Linked DNA regions of Homo sapiens: regions 1 and 3 are each linked to region 2. The links come from fine-mapping of genetic effects on gene expression. A gene starts in region 2. Each other region holds a variant in brackets. All regions are shown on one strand. Distances are between the middles of the regions.

The links. PIP is the estimated chance that this variant, and not a neighbour inherited with it, causes the effect. A credible set is the group of variants that fine-mapping cannot tell apart.
Region 1: its variant is the best candidate, but not a certain one, in a credible set for the expression of LTO1 in whole blood (TOPMed, PIP 0.85).
Region 3: its variant is the best candidate, but not a certain one, in a credible set for the expression of LTO1 in whole blood (TOPMed, PIP 0.88).

Annotation. Positions count from the first base shown.
Region 1 is chr11:69,550,730-69,557,660 of GRCh38, reverse strand. No RefSeq gene overlaps it. Among named protein-coding and RNA genes, the nearest start is that of LINC01488, 73 kb to the right of the region's middle. RefSeq lists cis regulatory regions at 787, 1,845, 5,311 and enhancers at 715-859, 1,773-1,917, 5,239-5,383. The variant C/T (reference allele first, on the strand shown) is at 3,329.
Region 2 is chr11:69,672,819-69,679,749 of GRCh38, reverse strand. LTO1 (LTO1 maturation factor of ABCE1) reads left to right here and starts at 4,397. Exons shown (of 5, transcript NM_153451.3): 1 at 4,397-4,560; 2 at 6,429-6,534. The coding sequence starts at 4,511. RefSeq lists enhancers at 4,036-4,235, 4,105-4,605 and a silencer at 4,726-4,815.
Region 3 is chr11:69,649,927-69,656,857 of GRCh38, reverse strand. CCND1 (cyclin D1) reads right to left here. Exons shown (of 5, transcript NM_053056.3): 5 at 2,384-5,740. The coding sequence ends at 5,576. Among named protein-coding and RNA genes, the nearest start is that of CCND1, 12 kb to the right of the region's middle. RefSeq lists an enhancer at 991-1,928. The variant C/A (reference allele first, on the strand shown) is at 3,606.

The DNA.
Region 1 (6,931 bases), 120 kb after region 2:
CTGAGTTTACTTAGTGCAGACAGGCTTTAAGTAAGGTGGGAAACTAAACCCCCCATATAGAGGAGGGAATGGAGGCCTCAGAGCAGACGGACCTGGAATGGAGTCTTGCCTCCTATGTTTGTGGCCCTGTTTCCCGGGAATTGGAAATGGTGCTGTAAAGTGCCTGGTATGGGGAGGTGAACCTGCAGGCCGGTATTGTTGTGACTTCGCTCTCCCTCTTGGTAGCAGCCACCGTCAGTGTGTTCAGAAGCATCCAGCTGCCATGTTTTGGGTACAGTTCCCATGTCTTCTCCAAATCCCATGTTGGAATTAGACCCCCAAGCTTGGAGGAGGGTCCTGGTGGGAGTTGTTTGGGTCATGGAGGCGAATCCTTCATGAATGACTTGGTGCGTTCTCCTGGTAATGAGTGAGTTCTCACTATTAGTTTGTGTGAGAACTGATGGTTGAAGATCTGGGCCCTCTGCTCTCTCTTCCTTCCTCTCTCGCCAGCTTCCCATTGCCTTCTGCCAAGGTGAGTGGAAGCTTCCTGAGGCCTCACCAGAAGCAGATGCCAGCACCATGATTCCTGTACAGCCTGCAGAACCATGAGCCAAATGAACCTCTTTTCTTAGCAATTACCCAGCCTCAAGTATTCCTTTATAGCAATACAACTGAACAAAGACCCCAGGCCAAAGGCGGAGGGGATTTCGAGGCTCTAGGGTCCAAGAAGTGGGCAGGCCTAGCCCCCTCTAGGCACAGGCTTGGATCTTTTTAAATTTTGAATAAGACTGGAAATGATTTCTCTCTCTTTTTTTTTTTTTTTTTTTGAGATAGAGTCTTGTTCTGTCGCCCAGGCTGGAGCGCAGTGATCTCAGCTCGCTGCAACTTCCGCCTCCTGGGTTCAAGAAATTCTCTTGTCTCAGCCTCCTGAGTAGCTGGAATTACAGGCATGCACCACCATGCCCAGCTATTTTTTGTACTTTTAGTACAGACTGGTTTTGCCATGTGGGCCAGGCTGGTCTCGAACTCCTGACCTCAGGTGATCCACCCGCCTCAGCCTCCGAAAGTGCTGGGATTCCAGGTGTGAGCCACCATTCCCGGCCCTGATTTCTGTTTGCAATGTTGTGCAACCACTCCTCCACAGCAGTGAAACAGGTGACATTACAACCCCACTTTCAGGAAGTGGAAACTGAGGCTCAGAGAGACTGAGTGCTGTATCCCAGGTGGCTGGGCTAGTGAGGAGCAGAGCTGGGGTGTTTGGGTTTGTGCTCAGGGGAGTGTCCTCTAGGGCCCTTCTGGGCTGCTGAGGGAGCAGAGCCGGCTGCACAGGCGAGCCCAGCGTGCCTAGACGGGCCTGCACCTGCTGCAATGCCCTGCGATCACCATCTTGAAATTCTTACTAGGGTTTGAACAAGGGATCTTGCATTTTCATTTTGCACTAGCCCAGCAAATGATGTAAGAACAGGGGAAGGAACTGAGAGACAGCCACCTGGGGACCAGGGCCCTCATCCTGGTTCTCTGTGTGGCCTTAATCAGCTGTCTACCACTCCCTCTTGCCTTGGTCTCCCCGTCTGCAAGATGAAGGAACAGGGCTAGATTGGGATTCCCTCATGTATATTTCATGGAACACTGATACCTCATGGTTCACTGAGACAAAGTCCCTCCAAAAAGTGAGTTTGTGAAACGGTGCAAATTTTTCTCTTGGAAAAATCCAGGGCAGTTTTGCATATTCAGGGATCTGTGTAGACTTGAAACAACAACAACAAAAAGCCTTCTTTAAAAAAAATGGCATTAGTATTTTCCAAATATATTAGATCACAAAAGCCTTCAGCAAAGTGGGATATCGGCCGGGCGCAGTGGCTCACACCTGTAATCCCAGCACTTTGGGAGGCCGAGGAGGGCGGATCGCTTGAGGTCAGGAGTTCCAGGCCAGCCTGGCCAACATGGTGAAACCCTGTCTCTACTAAAATACAAAAATTAGCTGAGCGTGGTGGCGGGCGCCTGTAATCCCAGTTACTCCGGAGGCTGAGACAGGAGAATTGCTTGAACCTGGGAGGCGGAGGTTGTGGTGAACCGAGATCGCGCCACTGCACTCCAGCCTGAGCAACAGAGCGAGACTCTGTCTCAAAAAAAAAAAAAAAAAAAAAGTGGGCTATCTACAAAATATCCCCAGAGAAATGCTAGACTAACACACTTTTGAACTCTTTTCCAGTATTCAGGGCAAACCTTCTGCCTTCCTTTTACTATCCCCTGGATTGACCGTGTCATGCAGGAAATTCAGAGACAGACCCCGCAGGCATGTATGGAACGAGCACAGAACAACTGGCAGCCCTGAAGGAGGATCTGGGGACAGGGAAGGGGCTCGAACGGTCCTCTGCTCCCATTTTTCAGCCCTTCCTCGGACCCAGAACAGCAGACCAGAATCACCTTTCACCCATGGAAAGGGGCTGGCACTCCAGGGATCTGTCCTGCTTGCTTTGGGCGGTCACTAGATCCCTCTGCCACATTTAGGGTCACTCCTCAGAGCACATGACCCCTCTGGAATCCTGAAGCTGCCCAGGGTAGGGCGGCACTGAGGCGGAAGCAGTGTGACCCTCCTGGGTCGGCTGGGCCTTTGACAGCTGATGTTTCACGGGATACTCATTCCTGCATGGCTCAGCTGCCTGAGGGCTGCCCCACCACTTCCCTGAGCTAATGTTGCCAGTGTGAAATTCCAGATTTGACCCTGAACTTCCTAGCTGGGTTTTAAAAAGGTTTGTTTGTAAGATGCACGGAGCATTGTTGGCCATCTTTTCATGGGCTCTTTGGCCATTTGTATAGCTCCTTTGGAGAAATGTCTGTTCAATTCCTCTGCCAATTTCAAAATTAGGTTGTCTTTTTTTTTTTTTTTTTTTTTTTTTTTTGAGAGACGGAGTCTTGCTCTTTCGCCCAGGGCGGACTGCAGTGGTGCTATCTCTGCTCACTGCAACCTCCACCTCCCGGGTTCACGCCATTCTCCTGCCCCAGCCTCCCAAGTAGCTGGGACTACAGGCGCCCACCACCACACCCAGCTAATTTTTTGTATTTTTAGTAGAGACAGGGTTTCACCGTGTTAGCCAGGATGGTCTCGATCTCCTGACCTCTTGATCCGCCCACCTCGGCCTCCCAAAGTGCTGGGATTACAGGCGTGGGCCACCGCACCCGGCTAGGTTGTCCTTTTTATTGCATCTTCTCGGGGGTCATCACCGTTGTTGAGCCTCATGAGACACACACAAAGTCTCCCTTCGCAGCATGTATGTTTATCCTGTGGTGCAGTGGTGGGCTCTGGCCAGGCAGGAGCCGGGGGAATGAGGGGCCTGCACAAATCTTG[C/T]TTTCCCAGGTGGGAGTGGGGCTGGCAACAGCTGGGGGCATGGTGGGGAAAGGAGTCAGGGGCCAGTGGATGGACACTCAAGCGGGGCAATGTGGCCCCTGGCTCCAACACGGCCTGGTCATCTTCTTATGATTCCCATACATTCATTCATAGTGTTGGCACAAAGGGGCTGTCCTCACTCCTCTGGCTCCTGCAGTGAGGTGGTAGCAACACAGCAGTGCATAGAGGTTGCGCCCCTGGGAGGGCCCTGGGCAGGGAAACGGGAGCCTGGGCTCTAGGTCCCGCTCCTCCACTTGCAGTCCCATCACATTGGGCTCCTCATCTAGAACTGCGGGATGACCCTCACTTTCCTGCTTCCCGACTATGGAGAGGCACAGGTGAGAACACCCGTGACAGCATGGGGCCAACCTCAGCTACTGCTGTGTGCGTGTGTGGAGGAACGTGGCTGCTGTGTTCCGGCCCCAGCACAGGCACCCCCACTCCACATCCATAACCAGGCCCCACGGCTTAATCACCCTGCCACATGCACCCTTTTTGGCCAAGACAGGACTTCACAGCAGGGGACCATCTGAAACAGGGAGGCCTCAAAGTAAGACCCAGGGGGTGGACCCTGGGAGGGCAGGGCCTGGTGGTGGGGAGGGGCCTGGTGGCAGAGCCCCAGCAAGTTTCTCCAGAGCTTTGACAGAGGAAGAGGTGTCTGGGGAAGGTCTACCTGGGGCTGGGCCTGGCCAAGGGCTGGAGCCAGGTAGCGGAAAGACTGACTTCACCTTCACCTACTTGGACTTAAGCAGAGGGTCTGGACCTGGCATACAGAGGACTAGCCCAAGGTCAAGGCCGGAGACATGGCTGGGACCTGGCTGGCCTCTTCCTGACATTGGAAGCCATGGCCCAGGGCATGTCAGACTTAAGGGTAGCCACGACGTAGGACATGAGGGAGGGACCTTGGGGATTTCTAGGGCCAGCACCCTCAGACTTTCTAGCAAAACTCTGGCCTTTGCTCCCTCCCAATGCTTCTGATTCCTATACATTCATTCAGTCATTCAACAAACATCTGTGGACAGGAATGCTGGGGACACAGCTCTGAACAAGAAAAACTCAGCCCTGGCCTTGGGCGCTTGCCTTCTAGGGTGAGACAACGATAAGTAAGCAACCACGACACAGGAAGAGACTTGTCGGGGAGTGGAAGTGCTCCCAGGAGCATCAACTTCGCCTGTGGGCTGGGAAAGTGTGCACTGTCCCAGACAGACAGACCAGGATCTGGTGATGTTCCCAGGAGCCAGGCACGAAGGTGAAGCATCCCCAGCTCCCAGACACATGTACCTTGACAGGAAGCAAATCCTAGGCCTGAAACACCCGATACCCCAAATCCTAGGCCTGAAACACCCGATACCCCAAATCCTAGGCCTGAAATCCCTGATGCCCCAAATCCTAGGTCTGAAACCCCTGATACCCCGAATCCTAGGCCTGAAATCCCTGATGCCCCAAATCCTAGGCCTGAAACACCCGATACCCCAAATCCTAGGTCTGAAATCCCCGATACCCCAAATCCTAGGCCTGAAATCCCCAATGCCCCAAATCCTAGGCCTGAAATCCCTGATGCCCCAAATCCTAGGCCTGAAACACCCGATACCCCAAATCCTAGGCCTGAAACCCCCGATACCCCAAATCCTAGGCCTGAAATCCCCGATGCCCCAAATCCTAGGCCTGAAATCCCCGATGCCCCAAATCCTAGGCCTGAAATCCCCGATGCCCCAAATCCTAGGCCTGAAATCCCCGATGCCCTAAATCCTAGGCCTGAAACCCACGATGCCCCAAATCCTAGGCCTGACACACCCCATACCCCAAATCCTAGGCCTGAAACCCCTGATGCCGCAGTCCTAACTCCGGGAAGCAAATAAAGACTTCCTGCCAGAGGACTTAGAAAGTGGGAGCGTTTACTGATGCTCTTTCTGCTCATTGGTCATTATTGTGCTTCTCAACAGTATCAAACAGTGAAACTTAAGAGTTTGAGCGGCCTTGCCTCCTGGATCTTGTCTTTGCCTTTAGAATTGTAATTATAGGATGTGTGTGATTTTTTTCCCACTTAACATGTCGTGAATATTTTCCATGTCTATGTAATCCTTTAAAAGCTATTTACAATGATTACATAATGTTTGGGACGTGTCATGATTTGCTTTCCATTTTACCTCCTGTTAGATGCCAAGGTCATAGGGTGGAGTCTCAGACCCACCCCAGCCTGGTTTATCATTTCATTGCCCTCAGCAGGAGCCACGCCGAAGTGTCAGATGTACCTCACCTGCCTCTTCCTCCTGAAGGATCTTAGGCTTTCAGCACAGGAGGGGGGTTAGGGATCTTCTGTTCCCATCCTTTTATTTTCTCAGCTGAGAAAACTCAAGACCTTGTCCAAGATCACAGGGCAAGTGAGTGATAATCCCTCTATGGTGAAAATGATGGAACTGCACTGAAATACATCAAAGAGTGGAAGGATTTCTTTTTGTACTGGAACTGTGCTGAATCTGTATACAATTTGGGGGAGAACCATACCTCTAAGATACTGAGTCTTTTATCAAAAAAATGCTCATCCGGGCGTGGTGGCTCATGCCTATAATCCCAGCACTTTGGGAAGCTGAGACGGGGGGATCATGAGGTCAAGAGATTGAGATCATCCTGGCCAACATGGTGAAATCCCATCTCTACTAAAAACACAAAAATTAGCCAGGCGTGGTGGTGCACTCCTGTAATCCCAATTACTCAGGAGGCTGAGCCAGGAGAATCACTTGAACCCAGGAGGCGGAGGTTGCAGTGAGCCAAGATTGTGCCTCTGCACTCCAGCTTGGCAACAAAGTGAGACTCCGTCAAAAAAAAAAAAAGCGCCATTTGGATACATCTTTGTTAGATTTATTCCCAGTTTATTTACATATATGTATGCATCATATACCTGTGTTTGTTGATGTTGCTGTTGTAAGTGGCATCTTTTTAAGACTTGTGTTTGCTAGTTGTTGCTGCTTTATAGAAATGCAATTGAGGTTTATATGCTGGTTTTGTACCCACCCACTTTATTTAAATGTCTTATTGATAATTTTCCATAGGTTCTTTTCAGGTTTCTATGTAGACAGTATTTTCATTTGTAACTAAGAAGAGTTTTCTGTGTCTTTCTTCCTTTATATTTTCTTTTCATGTCTTACTGCACAGGTTAGCAACTCCAGTTTGGTGTTATACAGAAGAGTCTGGGACGTGGTCTTAGCAGGAATGCTTTTAATTTTTCTCCAAGCATGATGGTTATTGCAGGTATTTTTGGGAGAGGCTCTTTTGTGGTCTTAACAGGAATGCTTTTAGCTTTTCTCCAAGCATGATGGTTATTGTAGGTATTTTTGGGAGAGACTCTTTATCAGATGAAGGAAATTCCCTTCTATTCCTATTTTGCTAAAATTTTCAAACCATGATTGGATATGGACATTTATTGAATGCTTTCTTTTTCATTTACTAAGATATAATTTGCTTTTTTAATCTGTTATTGTGGTAAATTACATTAATTAGATTTTTATATCTAATTAATAGATTTAAATCTAATTAACATATTTGTATAAATCAGGCTTGTATTCC
Region 2 (6,931 bases):
GTTTTAAATATGTACTGATAAGAGAACAGTTCCCTTATTTGGGAGGTGTTTGTAATCTAATGTTAAGTGGGCAGGGAGAAGGATATTACATTGTTTATATATTAAATTATGTTTATATGAAAATTCAAGGGAAAAATAATAAAATTAGCAAAAATCAGTTGGTGGACAGGGTGAACTGTTTTTTTTGGCTTGCTGTCTTTCCCTTTTTCCTATATTCCAAGTGTTGTGTGATTTCATTTGCTTATTTAAAAAACCTAAAAATTAAAGACATCTTCAGAACAAAATAATACGAAGTCTATTTAATTTCATCCACCAAAAACATTTTTTTATGCTTATAACATAACTTATGTTCATTGTGCAAACAAACATGAGATGTTCCAAAAAATATAAATGAGGACATTAAAAAAATCACTGTCATTCCAAAATCTAGCTATATTCTCTATGAACATTTTGCTGTACTTGCTTTCACTCTTTTTTCTCTTCCTTTTTTCTTTTCTGGTTTTTTGTTTGTTTGTTTGTTTGTTTGTTTTGTTTGAGATAGGGTCTCGTTCTGTTGCCCAGGCTGGAGTGCAGTGGCACGATCACGGTTTACTGCAGCCTCAATTTCCTGAGAACAAGCAATCCTCTCGCCTTAGCCTCCCAAGTAGCTGGGACTACAGGAGCACACTACCGTGCCTGGCTAATTTTTTCTATTTTTTTGTAGAGATGAAGTCTCACTATGTTACCTAGCTTGGTCTTGAACTCTGGGTTCAAGCAATCTTTCCACCTTGGCCTCCCAAAGTGTTGGATTATACGTGTGAGTCACCTCACCTGGCTACTCTCATTCTTTTGAAATAGTGTTTAGTGTGATTGCAATTCGAGTATATGTAGAGTGTTTTTTTTTCTTTTTCTTTTTCTTTCTTTTTATGTTTTTGAGATGAGATTTCACTCTGTTGCCCTGGCCTGGCTGCAGTGGAGTGGTATGGTCATAGCTCACTGCAGCCTCACATAGAGGATTTTTTTTTCTTTTTCTTGAAATATCATGGGCATTTTCCATGATGTTACTTTTGTTGAAATATTATTTGTAATGGTTGCTTAGGAGTCTTCAACATGAATAGCCTACAATACATGTCATAATTCCACCATTTTGTCAATGTAGCTGCTTTCCTTGCCTTGCCTTTTACAAATCGTGTTGCACTGAACAACACTGTACATAATATTTTGACTTGTCTTTGATTATTTCCTAGAGATGAAGTCTTAGAAGTGAAATGACTAGGTCCAGGGGCAAAAAAAAACTTTTTTATTCTATTTTTGAGGCAGAGTCTCATTCTGTCGCCCAGTCTGGAGTGCAGTGGCACAATCTCGGCTCACTGCAACCTCCACCTCCCAGGTTCAAGCAATTCTCCTGCCTCAGCCTCTAGAATAGCTGGGACTACAGGAGCGTGCCACCACACCCGGCTAATTTTTGTTTTTAGTAGAGACGAAGTTTCACTGTTTGGCCAGGCTGATCTGGAACTGGTGACCTCAGGTGATCCACCCACCTTGACTTCCCAAAGTGCTGGGATTACAGGCGTGACCCACCACGCCTAGCTAGTAAAAACAAACAAACAAACAAACAAACAAACAAACAAAATATATATATATATAATGCCCTTCCTATGTTTTTGAACTGCCTGACCAAGAGGTGTCTTCAATGTATGCACTTGTGCTCATTAAGAGTATCTTTTAATTCTAAAAAAGGAGAAAAAGAACTTAAGCTATTTTAAAAGATAAAAAATGCATCTCATTATTCTTTCTCAGCATTGCTTTGGTTACTAGTGAGGCTGCGTCTGCTTTTCCTGATTGGCCAGCTGTTGCTCTTTCTGTGAATAATGTTTCAAGTCCTTTTTTTTCCCCGTTAGGATGTATTTATTTAAATAAATACATGTATTTAAATAAACTCTTTACCAGAATTATTATTTCTTTAGTTACAATATTTATGACAAATATTTCCCCATATTGTTCTTTAACTTTAAATTTTGTTTCTTATCACTTTTGGTACACACAAGTTTGCATTTTTACATGGTAAAATGTTGGTTTTGCTTGCTGAGAATTCCTTCATGGCTTTTATGTGTTAAAAGAGCATCTTCATACTTGTCTGAATGTTCCACCTAGATTTTTTAATGTACTTTATTTTATTTATTTATTTATTTATTTTTATTTTATTTTATTTTTTTTGAGATAGAGTCTCGCTCTGTCACCCAGGCTGGAGTAGAGTAGCGCGATCTCGGCTCATTGCAAGCTCCACTTCCCAGGTTCATGCCATTCTCCTGCCTCAGCCTCCCAAGTAGCTGGGACTACAGGTACACGTCACCATGCCCCACTAATTTTTTTTTTTTGTATTTTTTGGTAGAGACGGGGTTTCACCATGTTAGCCAGGATGGTCTCGATCTCCTGACCTCATGATCCGCCCGCCTCGGCCTCCCAAAGTGCTGGGATTACAGGCAAAATGTGCTTTATTCATTTATTTATTTAGAGATGGAGTTTTGCTCTTGTTGCCCAGGCTGGGGTGCAATGGTGTGATCTCGGCTCACTGCAACCTCTGTCTCCTGGGTTCTCCTGCCTCAGCCTCCCGAGTAGCTGGGCTTACAGGCATGCACCACCACGCCAGGCTAATTTTGTAGTTTTAGTACAGACGGGGTTTCTCCATGTTGGTCAGGCTGGTCTCGAACTCCCTAACTCTGGTTATCCACCTGCCTGGGCCTCCCAAAGTGCTGGGATTACAGGCGTGAGCCACCGTGCCCAGCCAATGTGCTTAATTTTTTTAAGTTAACTCTTTAACTCATCTGGAATTATTTTGATGAATGGTGTGAGGCATAAATGGAACCAAGCTTTTCCCAAACAACCAATTTTCCATTATAGTTATTAGTTAATATTTCCTTTCTCCAATTAATTTGTAATTCTTCTTTTTACCACATGAGAAGGCTTTACATCTATGAGAGTCCATTGTCTGGGCCATTTACTTTATTTCACTGGTCTGCCACTTCTTGAACCAACATACCACAATATTTATATTGACACTTTATCTTTTCATATCTGATATGAAAATCATTTTTTTCTAAAACATCTTAGTTATTTTTATTAGTTTATTCATACGGATGAAAAAGTTTAGGATTTTGACACATTTTACCAGATCTCATGGAATTTTCTTTGGTACTGCACTTGTTCAGTTCCCCAATCCTCAATCATGGTAGAGCTGTAGTTTTCCTTATATGGGTCCTGCTCAAATTGTTAGAAATTCTTATTTCTAAGAAATGTATTATGACTATCATAAGGCGATTTTCCCATCACCACCCCTGCTCAGGTTACTACCAATTATTGTTGGAATAACAGAAAGTGTTTTTTTCCCTATTCATCATACACATAGCTACTTGCTGCGATTATGGATTCTGAGAACGTCTTAGGTGACTATTTGGGTTTTCCACGTGGGCCATCATATCTGCAAATAGTAGTATTTCTGCCTTTTTTTTTTTTTTTTTTTTTTTTTGGTATTTCCACTTCTTGCTTCATGTTTTACTGCATTGGCCAGGGCTGGTAGAAAGATGTTCAGTGGTCACGTGAGGTTTTACTACTGACTTTATTAGGAATGCTTCTGGTGTTTCTCATCTGAGTTCCGTTGTCGCTTAGACTTTGAAATCCCTTTTTAAAAATCGTGTTCAGAAAGCACATCTCATGGAAATGACAAATATGAGAACTAAAACCGACAAATTTCTGCCCAAAATCCCACATGCAGAGCCTCCTGGCCTGGAGCCTCCTGAGGCGTCGGTTCTTTGATGACTTCCCATTTCTTTTCCCTTTTTTTTTTTTTTTTTGACGGAGTCTGGCTCTGTCGCCAGTCTGGAGTGCAGTGGTGCGATCTCGGCTCACTGCAACCTCCGCCTCCCAGCTTCCAGTGATTCTCCTGCCTCAGCCTCCCGAGTAGCTGGGATTACAGGCGCCTGCCACCATGCCCGGCTAATTTTTGTATTTTCAGTAAAGACGAGGTTTCACCATGTTGGCCAGGCTGGTCTCGAACTCCCGAACTCAGGTGATCCGCGCGCCTCGGCCTCCCAAAGTGCTGGGATGACAGGCGTGAGCCACCGCGCCAGCTGATGACTTCCCATTTCTTCCTTGGTTCTTTCGGAGCCACTTTGGGAAATTCGGTTCTATCTGCAGTGGTAAAATACAGGTCGGCTCTCCACGCGCGCGGCCAATGGACGCTCCCAGCGCGGACAGACAGGCCCTTTGCTGGAGCTGGGCAGGGCGAAAGGACCCCAGGGCGGGGCTTCAGTCGAGGCCGGCCCCGCCCACCGCTGCAGCCGCGCATGCGCCATGTACAGGCTGCTTTGGGCCCTCCCGCGTGCCGTTCTTACCCGGCCTGCCCCGCGCCGCCGCTTCCGGAAGTGGGTCTCGTCTCCTCCCAAGCGGAGCATTTGTGCCTGAAGCTGCCGGGTCTGCTACGGCACCGCGGGGCTGCAGAAACCCGGGGGCCAAGGGCGGGCTGCTTGCCGCTATGGCTGGCAGTCAGGACATATTCGATGCCATCGTGATGGCGGATGAGAGGTGGGTGGTGAGGCCGGGCCCGCACCCCGCCCTGTCTGGTCGTCTCCCAGCGGCTTCGCCGCCGGCTGCGGCCCAGGGCGGCTGCTGGAGCCTGGCGTCCCTTGGGCGTGCGCATTGGGGAGCGCCTGGTGGCCGTGGACGCAGGGACAAGTGTGGGCCTGATGCTCTGGTCCTCTTCTCCTGGCCCGCTCCGGCGGGGCACGTGCCCAGCTGCTCTTCCAGACCCGCCTTCCCTGTCAGGGCTGCCCCAAACATCTGCTCAGCCTGGTGGTTCCCCTCCTCCGAGGCCGCCTCGTCCTCTGGGAGGACAGACCTTTGCCATCTGGGAGCTGCCTTTTTTTCTGGTTCCTTAATCATAGGACATACGGCAGTATTCATGGATGTGCTGATAGATGTACCCGACCACACCCCTTTTCCCTCCAGAGCCCCTGGGGAGCCCCTCGTGCTGCGACAGTGGGGGAGCTGTGAGTTGCCTCCTGGCTGACTTCCAGTGCCCGGCCCAGAGGACGCGTCCATAGATGTTAGTTAAGAAAGCGGCCGAACATTTAGCAGTCAGGCGCTGACGTTTATTTAGCTCGCGCTGTGAGTCAGACACTGAGCTAAACGTTCCACCCTGGTTATCTACTTCAGCCCTACTTAGTAAGTGGATCCTATTATTCTTCGGAATTTACAGACTAGGAGGCACAGTCACTTTCCAGGGTCACACAACTATTAAGTGGGGAGCTATGCACCCTGCTTCATGGGGCGCTGCAGCCCACTCCTTGCATGTTTGGTGACTGCAGGTTAAGATAGTGGCAGTTCCACTGTTGGGCCTCAGGGTCAGTGCTACTCCGGGTACCAGTCGGAGAACATTTTGTGGTGATCTGATGCCATTTCTCTCTGTTGCCCTACCCATGTGATGTCAAACCCTGTGTATGTTGCAGTTTTTTGGAAGCGGTTGACTTGGGCTAGTGCTACTTGAACACTCACAGAACTTTGGCCCCCTAACTCTGGCTGCAAACCAGACTTATCTAGGAGACTTTGAAAAGTAGATTCCGGGCCAGATGCGGTGGCTGACGCCTGTAATCCCAGCACTTTGGGAGGCCGAGGCGGGCGGATCACGAGGTCAGGAGATCCAGACCATCCTAGCTAACATGGTGAAACCCCGTCTCTACTAAAAATACAAAAAATTAGCCGGATGTGGTGGTGGGCGCCTGTAGTCTCAGCTACTTGGGAGGCTGAGGCAGGAGAGCGTGAACCCGGGAAGCAGAGCTTGCAGTGAGCCGAGATCGCACCACTGCACTCCAGCCTGGGCGACAAAGCGAGACTCCATCTCAAGAAAAGAAAAGTGGATTGCAGGCCAGGTGCGGTGGCCCTCACTTGTAATCCCAACACTTGGAGCGGCCAAAGCTGGAGGATCGCTTGAGCCCAGGAGTTTGAGGCTATAGTGAGCTGTGATCATACCACTGCACTCCAGGCAGGGCAACAGAGACCCTGTCTCAAAAAAAAAAAAAAAAAAAAGGAAGAAAGAAAAGTAGATTCCAGGGCCTTGCTCCAGACGTACTGAATCTCTGGGGGTGAGGCTTTTGAGTTAATATCTTTGAATTTTCCTTGTGTGTTTCTAGTACCCTATCAGGTTTGGGAATCCCTAATTTAGCCCTTTGTTGTAGATGAAGAAACTGGGCTACAAGAGGTACAGTGACTTCCAGAGGCAAATAGGAAGTGGTAGATCTGGGACTGGAATCTGTGTCTTCTGACTTGAATTTTAGGCTTTTCCTCCTTTACTCTGGTTTGTCTTACTGGGTCCGGGTAATACAAGAGAGAGAAGTTTTTCTGGAGAAAGTATTCTTTCTCCTGTTGATTTGATGAAGCATGCTTCTTCTTCACAGGTTTCATGGGGAAGGGTATCGGGAAGGCTATGAAGAAGGCAGTAGTTTGGGTGTGATGGAGGGAAGGCAGCATGGCACGCTGCATGGAGCCAAAATCGGGTCTGAGGTAAGTGGGAACCCCCATCTGGAGATGAAGCCTCTTCATTTACAATTTATAATTTATTTCGATATTCAGTGTGATGGAGTAAGAATTGTCAGGCCTTTTAAAATCACAGTGCCGGATGGGCGCGGTGACTCACACCTGTAATCCCAGCACTTTGGGAGTCTGAGGTGGGTGGATCGCCTTGAGGTCAGGAGTTGGAGACCAGCCTGACCAACATGGTGAAACCCTGTCTCTACTAAAAATACTGAATTAGCTGGGCATGGTGGTGCATGCCTGTAATCCCAGCCACTTGGGAGGCTGAGGTATGAGACTCGCTTGAACCTGGGAGGCAGAGGTTGTGGTAAGCCGGGACCGTGCCATTGCACTGCAGCCTGGGCGACAGGATGAAACTCCATCTCCA
Region 3 (6,931 bases), 23 kb after region 2:
GTCCCCACCCAAATCTCATCTTGAATTGTAGCTCCCATAATTCCCACGTGTTGTGGGAGGGACCCGGTGGGAGGTGATTGAATCATGGGGCAGTTTCCCCTATACTGTTCCCATGGTGGTGAACAAGTCTCAGCAGATCTGATGGTTTTATAGGGGTTTCCCCTTTCACTTGAGTCTCATTCTCTCTTGCCTGCTGCCATGGAAGACGGGCCTTTCGCCTTCCGCCGTGATGGTGAGGCCTCCCAGCTACGTAGAACTGTGAGTCTATTAAACCTCTTTTTCTTTATAAATTACCCAGTCTCGGGTATGTCTTTGTTAGCAGTGTGAAAACGGACTGATACAGCCTTGGAGCTCGTGGCATAACCACGATGTATAGACCCACCCATCACTGGGGGATGTACAGAACCCCCCATCGTGGCACAGCCAGGGATGGGGGGTGTACAGACCCCCCCATCGTGGCACAGCCAGGGGTGAGGGGTGTACAGACACCCCCATTGTGGCACAGCCAGGGGTGGGGTGTGTACAGACCCACCCATCACGGGATGCCACAGATGCCGAGACAGAGAGAATGGGTTGTGGGAGAGCTTGCAACTGCTTCACTCTGGGCCCAAGCCCTCTCTACACACTTGGCTGTGAACCCACCTGACCCACCCAGGGCCCCGGCCCTGCCCTGCCACCCTGCCTGAGCCCCGCGCTCAGCTCCATCTCTCCCAGTAGACATGTCGCTGCCTTTTGGCTCTGCCAGACCTATCAGCCTACACATCCCTCTTTCATCTTAAAAAACCTTCCAAACACTAAAGTAGATCCCTAGACCCATGTGCTCCTCTCCCTGCATGGCAAAGTGGCTCTCCAGCTTCTTCCCCACATCCTTGCTCAAACCTAACAGGATCCGATGGCTCCCTTGCCTGCTCCGTGAAACAACCAAAGGTGCCCTGTGCGATGGTCGGAGCTCTCTGCACAGGCCTCCTGCTACACCCATGTGCTCTCGGGGGATGAATGTAAACCCAGCTGCAGGCCGGGGGTGGGGACATGGCTTCCCTAGGACCCCAGCCCTGACACAGGACCTGGCCATTGCCTGGAACTGGAGAGCCGCAATGGTGCAGACCTGGTCCCTGCCTTCAGAGTAATTTGCCCAGGAGCAAGGAGGAGCTGGGCCTTGTGAGCCACCCGAGTGGCCACCAGTGTCACCTCTGGCTCCGACTGTCCCTTGAGCTCTTTCTGATGTGACCTGTCAGGGGCACCTTGCAGGCTCCCCCACCCACTCAATATAGGACTCCCTCGAGGAAGGCTCCCGGAGCCCCCACCCTCAGGGGAGAGGCTGGTGGAGACCTACAGGGGCCAAGCGTTTCCCTCCACACCCCACCTTCCTCCCAGGGCAGGCGCCTGTGGAGCCAACACACCGACCACCCCGGCCCCACTGTTGAGCCCTGGGAGGAGTGCTCTACAAGGCAGGAAGGGTAGACAGCAGGTGCTTCATAAAGGCCACGGAGATTCAACCTGCAGCTGACAAGTAGCACCCATCGGTGGCTTGGGACCTGAGCTTCCACTTAGCTTGGGATGAGGACAAACCAGCCTCACAGATGGGTTCAGGAGCAGTGACCAAGGTCCGAGGACACCTTCCCAGGGCACTCCCACTACCTGCCTCCACCCTGGGGTTTGAAGTTAAGTCCAGTCACGTGCACCTGAAATCCAGAGGTGGGCGTCATGGGTGTCCTATAAGGCGGCCTCCAGGTCCCCACGATCCCAGTGAAAGGCCACCCCGGATCATGGCCCTGACACGGTGCTTTGCTCTCCCGGAGCCTGGCGTCGCCAAAGGACCATGATTCATCCAGAGCAAACAGCAGTTTGCGCCAGAAGAGGGTTAACGAATGCCGGCTTTATTTATTTTCCTATCTGCAAATAACCCGGGAAGACAAACTGGTGGGGCAAGGAAGAGGGGGAAGATGTTCCCCATCAATGGGCACCGCTCACGTCACCCAGGCCGGAGCTGTTGTCTCGCGTGGTTGGAGGTGGGCTCACCCAGCCAGGCAGCCTGCAAATTATTCTCTGGAGCCTCCCGGGGACAGGACACCGCCTCCCACCTCACACACCTGTGCTGAGGGCTTCCTCCCAGTTGGGAGGGGTGTGCCTGCTCCTGGCTGGATTCTGTCCCCACCCCCGGGGATGTGGCAGTGTCAGGAGACATTCTTGGTTGTCACGGCGGGTGGCGTGACTGTCATCCCGGGGATGGAGGTCAGGATGCTGCTGAACTTCCCACAGCGCACAGGACAGGCTGCGGCCTCCCACATCCGCCAAGCCTGCCACCCTGCCCTGGTTCTAGGGCACCAGGACACGCGTCCCTGGCTCACGGCCAGCCCAGGAAGCAAAGAGGCAGGCACCACGCTGGGGTTTTACCAGTTTTATTTCTAGACTTTCATGTTTGTCTTTTTGTCTTCTGCTGGAAACATGCCGGTTACATGTTGGTGCTGGGAAGCGCCGCGGTGCAACCAGAAATGCACAGACCCAGCCGCCCGCCGCCCAGACCCTCAGACTTGCGCGTCACAGGACAGACTCCGCTGTGCCCCGTGCACTTGCCACCAGCCTTTGGCCTCTCGATACACACAACATCCAGGACTTGTGCCCTTGCCCCATCACGACAGACAAAGCGTCCCTCAAGGCCCCCGCGTGGTTCAGACAGACGCCGCAGCCAGGATGGTTGAGGTAAGCGTGAGCCGTGTTCTGGAGGGGTGGGGCGGGGTGGGCCTGTGCCCGAGATGGCCTCCGAGCACAGGATGACCCTGCCAGGGCAGGGCCCCAACCACGTGGGCCCGCAGCGGGGTGCAAATTCTTTTGGTTCGGCAGCTTGCTAGGTGACCGGGGCACACAGCACTGTGAGCTGGCTTCATTGAGATTTGGAGTCTCTTTAAATTAGCATTATGGTGTAATTAACAAAACAATAACAAACAGAACACTAGTACATAACAGATTAAACATACCCAAAACTTGAACAAATTCCAGAAGCTATTCCAATCATCCCGAATGAGAGTCCTACAGGTACAACGCCGTGGTGGCACGTAAGACACACTTGTTATAATAATAATAATAATAATTATGCAACTTCCATAGCTACACGCAAAGAATAACACAGCTGTAAAAACTACTATGATGCTACGCCCCCGATCAGATGAAGTGCCCAGCATCACAGGCGCAGGGAAGAGAAGAGGGACACAGCCTGGTCTCTGGGGACACCGGCGCGGTTCTCACGCACGCGGCCTCGGGGCCGGCCCCCGCCAGCCTGTGTGGGATCGCGCCCGCGTGTCTGCCCGCCAAAGCAGGCAGAACCTGCCCGCTGGGTCCACCATGGCTAAGTGAAGCATGAGGTATTGTGAAACAGCAACCTTTTTGGAATAGAGCAGTAATCACATTAAGTCAAAATTGATCACATAAAAAAAAAAAAAACTACAAAAAAGGCATCTGTAATACAATGTTCTAAGAGAAAACTAAAACTAGTACATGGCAGTATATGACATTGTAAAACAAAAAACTGATCCTCCAATAGCAGCAAACAATGTGAAAGAGATACACAGAAGCGATGTGAATATTTCCAAACCGTGCCTGGAAGTCAA[C/A]GGTAGCAGCGCAATAAGAAAATGGAGCTGCGGCCTGTCCCCGGTGTGGGCACCGCCCCTTCCCCTCGGGAGCCTCCTCCTCACACCTCCTCCCGCCTGTCCTCCCTCACACGTCAGCCTCCACACTCTTGCCACCTCCCTTCAACACTTCCTAAATAAAAATTACAAGAATTACATAGCCAAGATGTGCAAATTGTCTATTTTGTCACTAAGTTTTTTAAAGGAAGGGGCAGGGGATAAGAATTCATCGGAACCGAACTTAGGTTGAGTACCCTAATTTTCCTTGCACCCATGCCTGTCCAATCAGATGACTCTGGGAAACGCCAAACAGGCTGAATCAATGTCTTTGTGTGGTTTTTTTCTTCCAGATTGTTTTTTTCTCACCTATAAAAGGATCTATCTTTAAAAATAAACTGTATTAAATCTGTAACATCAAAGGCAGAAGGTTTGTGTGTGTGTGTGTGTGTGTGTGTATCTGTGTGTTTAAATCAAGGGGAGATTGCATTTATAAATCATACTGGCCTTATGAACATCCTCTGCAATAAATATACTTTTTAGCCTTAACTATAAATTATATATTTTAGTGTTTAAAAACCTTCCGGTGTGAAACATCTAAGATAACCCTTAAAAACCACCTGTTCTCTAGGTAAACCTCTGAGGTCCCTACTTTCAAACACCAGTTGGCACCAAAGGATTCCTAAACTTCAACTTCTTTAAAGAAAAGGAAAGGAACTTATCATCCTGGCAATGTGAGAATGCAAACCTTTTTCTTCTTGACTGGCACGCAGCCTCCCAAACACCCCACCTCCACTGCCACCACAGTGGCCCACACTTGCCTCAAAGTCCTGCTTGCAAACAAGTACATGGATATTCCCAAACCATTCCATTAGAAAACTGCCCTCCCTGCACACACAACAAAAACAGCGCTATTTCCTACACCTATTGGACTGAAAGTGCTTGGAAATGGAATGGTTTTAGAATATGAAGAAGAACACAAACCAAGTAGCTGTGGGTTGAACCTGGACGTGAGCTGGCTGCAGGGCCGTTGGGTAGAAAACCAGCATCTCATAAACAGGTCACTACAAAAATAGGAAGAGTATAAAAATAGAATATATTATGTCACTATTTCGTCTTCTCTTTATAGTAGCGTATCGTAGGAGTGGGACAGGTGGCCTTTCCCGACCCTGCTACGCTGGCTGGTGCCCGACAAACCTCCACTGGATGGTTTGTCACTGGATGGTTTGTTGGGGTGGTGGTCACAGGCGCAAAGGACATGCACACGGGCACGCTACGCTACTGTAACCAAGAGGTGACTTCAGCCATGAATAAGGTGAAGAGGTTACACATCTACCTACGGAATATAATAACATACAATGACTTATAAAGTGACTACATGCATATGAGCAAGCAAAGTACAGAGATGCCTAGAACCCCACTACAGCTGTGCTTTATCAGGAAAAGCACAAGAATATGTTTTTCTACCTAAAACCCTCTTCTACTTTAAAAATGGTTTGCTGAATTTTTCTATGTTTTTAAAATGTTTTTATGCTTTTTTTTAAACACGTAAAGGATGGAACCTAATCCTCTCCCGAGACGCCTCCTTTGTGTTAATGCCTATTCTTACAACAGAGAAACAAGTACATTAATATAAAAACGAGTTGATTATTGGGGTATAAAATCCTCTATCATCTGTAGCACAACCCTCCTCCCCCACCGCTCAGGGTTATGCAAATACTATTTTTTTTTTCTCTCTCTCTCTTTTAAAGACAGTTTTTGGGTAATCTTTTTCTTTTGCTTAAGTCAGAGATGGAAGGGGGAAAGAGCAAAGGAAAAAACAACCAACAACAAGGAGAATGAAGCTTTCCCTTCTGGTATCAAAATGCTCCGGAGAGGAGGGACTGTCAGGGGAGCACCTGGGGCCGGCTCCGCCCTCGCTGCGGGTGGCGGTGGCGCCCGCCTGCCTGGCGCCCTCAGATGTCCACGTCCCGCACGTCGGTGGGTGTGCAAGCCAGGTCCACCTCCTCCTCCTCCTCTTCCTCCTCCTCGGCGGCCTTGGGGTCCATGTTCTGCTGGGCCTGGCGCAGGCTTGACTCCAGCAGGGCTTCGATCTGCTCCTGGCAGGCCCGGAGGCAGTCCTGAGAGAGAGAGGGTGGGGAGAGGTGGGAAGAGGGGGTCCTTAGAAGGGGCCTGCAGCGAGGGCCCCTTCCCAGGTGCCATGACCCGGAAGCCTTTATAAGAGCAAGACTAAGCCAAAAACTGTCCCTCGGCCCATGCTGCCTCCTCTGAACCTGAGCGAGATGTGGGAGCTGCCATCACCTGTCAGGACACTCAGGACCAAATGCCTCCACCTCCCACCTGGTCTCTGGAGCCACAAGACACCAGATGCTTGCCCGCCCACCCTGCACACCCCCTGCCCGTCCCCATGTCCAACAGCGCCTTCACCGCCTGTTCCCACTGGCCGTGCCAGCTCCCTGGGGAATTCAGTGCCATCTGATCTGGACAGGAGGCCCTTTGAACCCTGCCTTTTCAGCCTTTTCAGACTTAACCTCTCCATGTGGCAGCCCTTGAGGTGAACCTGGCCTTCCATGATCAATGGCTGTCGAAGCCTTGGGCCGTGCATGACTGAGGATGAATGCTGGGTGGCCAGGGGGACCTGGACCATTGATCCCTCCCCTCCATCCTCTCCCGCTCAGGCCTGTGCCCCGGGGCCAGCCATCAGCCTGGCACAGCATGCATCCACCCACTGCGGCCACTGAGGTGCTCGCCCTCGGGTGGAGTGCGACGGACGCTCCTGGAAGTCCTGCACCTCCACCCTCTGGGGCTCCAGACTCCCTTGGCAGCGTCCACACCACACTGTCAGTGGGAAAGAGCAGCCGTGAAATCTGGAACGCCACGCCCAGCCAGGGGCCTCTCCTAGGCTCCACCACGGGCAAGTCCCACGCAGCCTGAAGTGGCTGCTTACTGCCCGGGGGCTTCTGGATGGAGAACCGGCTCCATGTGTTGGGGCTGTGTGTGTCCCAACTGCCAGGAAGCCACGCTAGGGCTTCAAGCCAAGTCTCTAGGCAGCCCAGGAAACAGACCTTCCACAAGGAGCAGGGCTGGGCCACAGCCCCACCACGTGCCGCACAGGTGCCACTTAACTCCCAACCAGAAGGGGCTGGACAAAGGCATAGCACGACAGGCGATGACCCAGGCCAGAACGACTTTTAGGTGGACCACTGAGGTCACGACATTTTAGCGCCTGTACCTTTATAGGGAGGGCTTTCCTCTCCCGCCCCTCAGATAAATTCTCATCATGGCAAATGAAGCTGGCCGGGCTGGCTGCA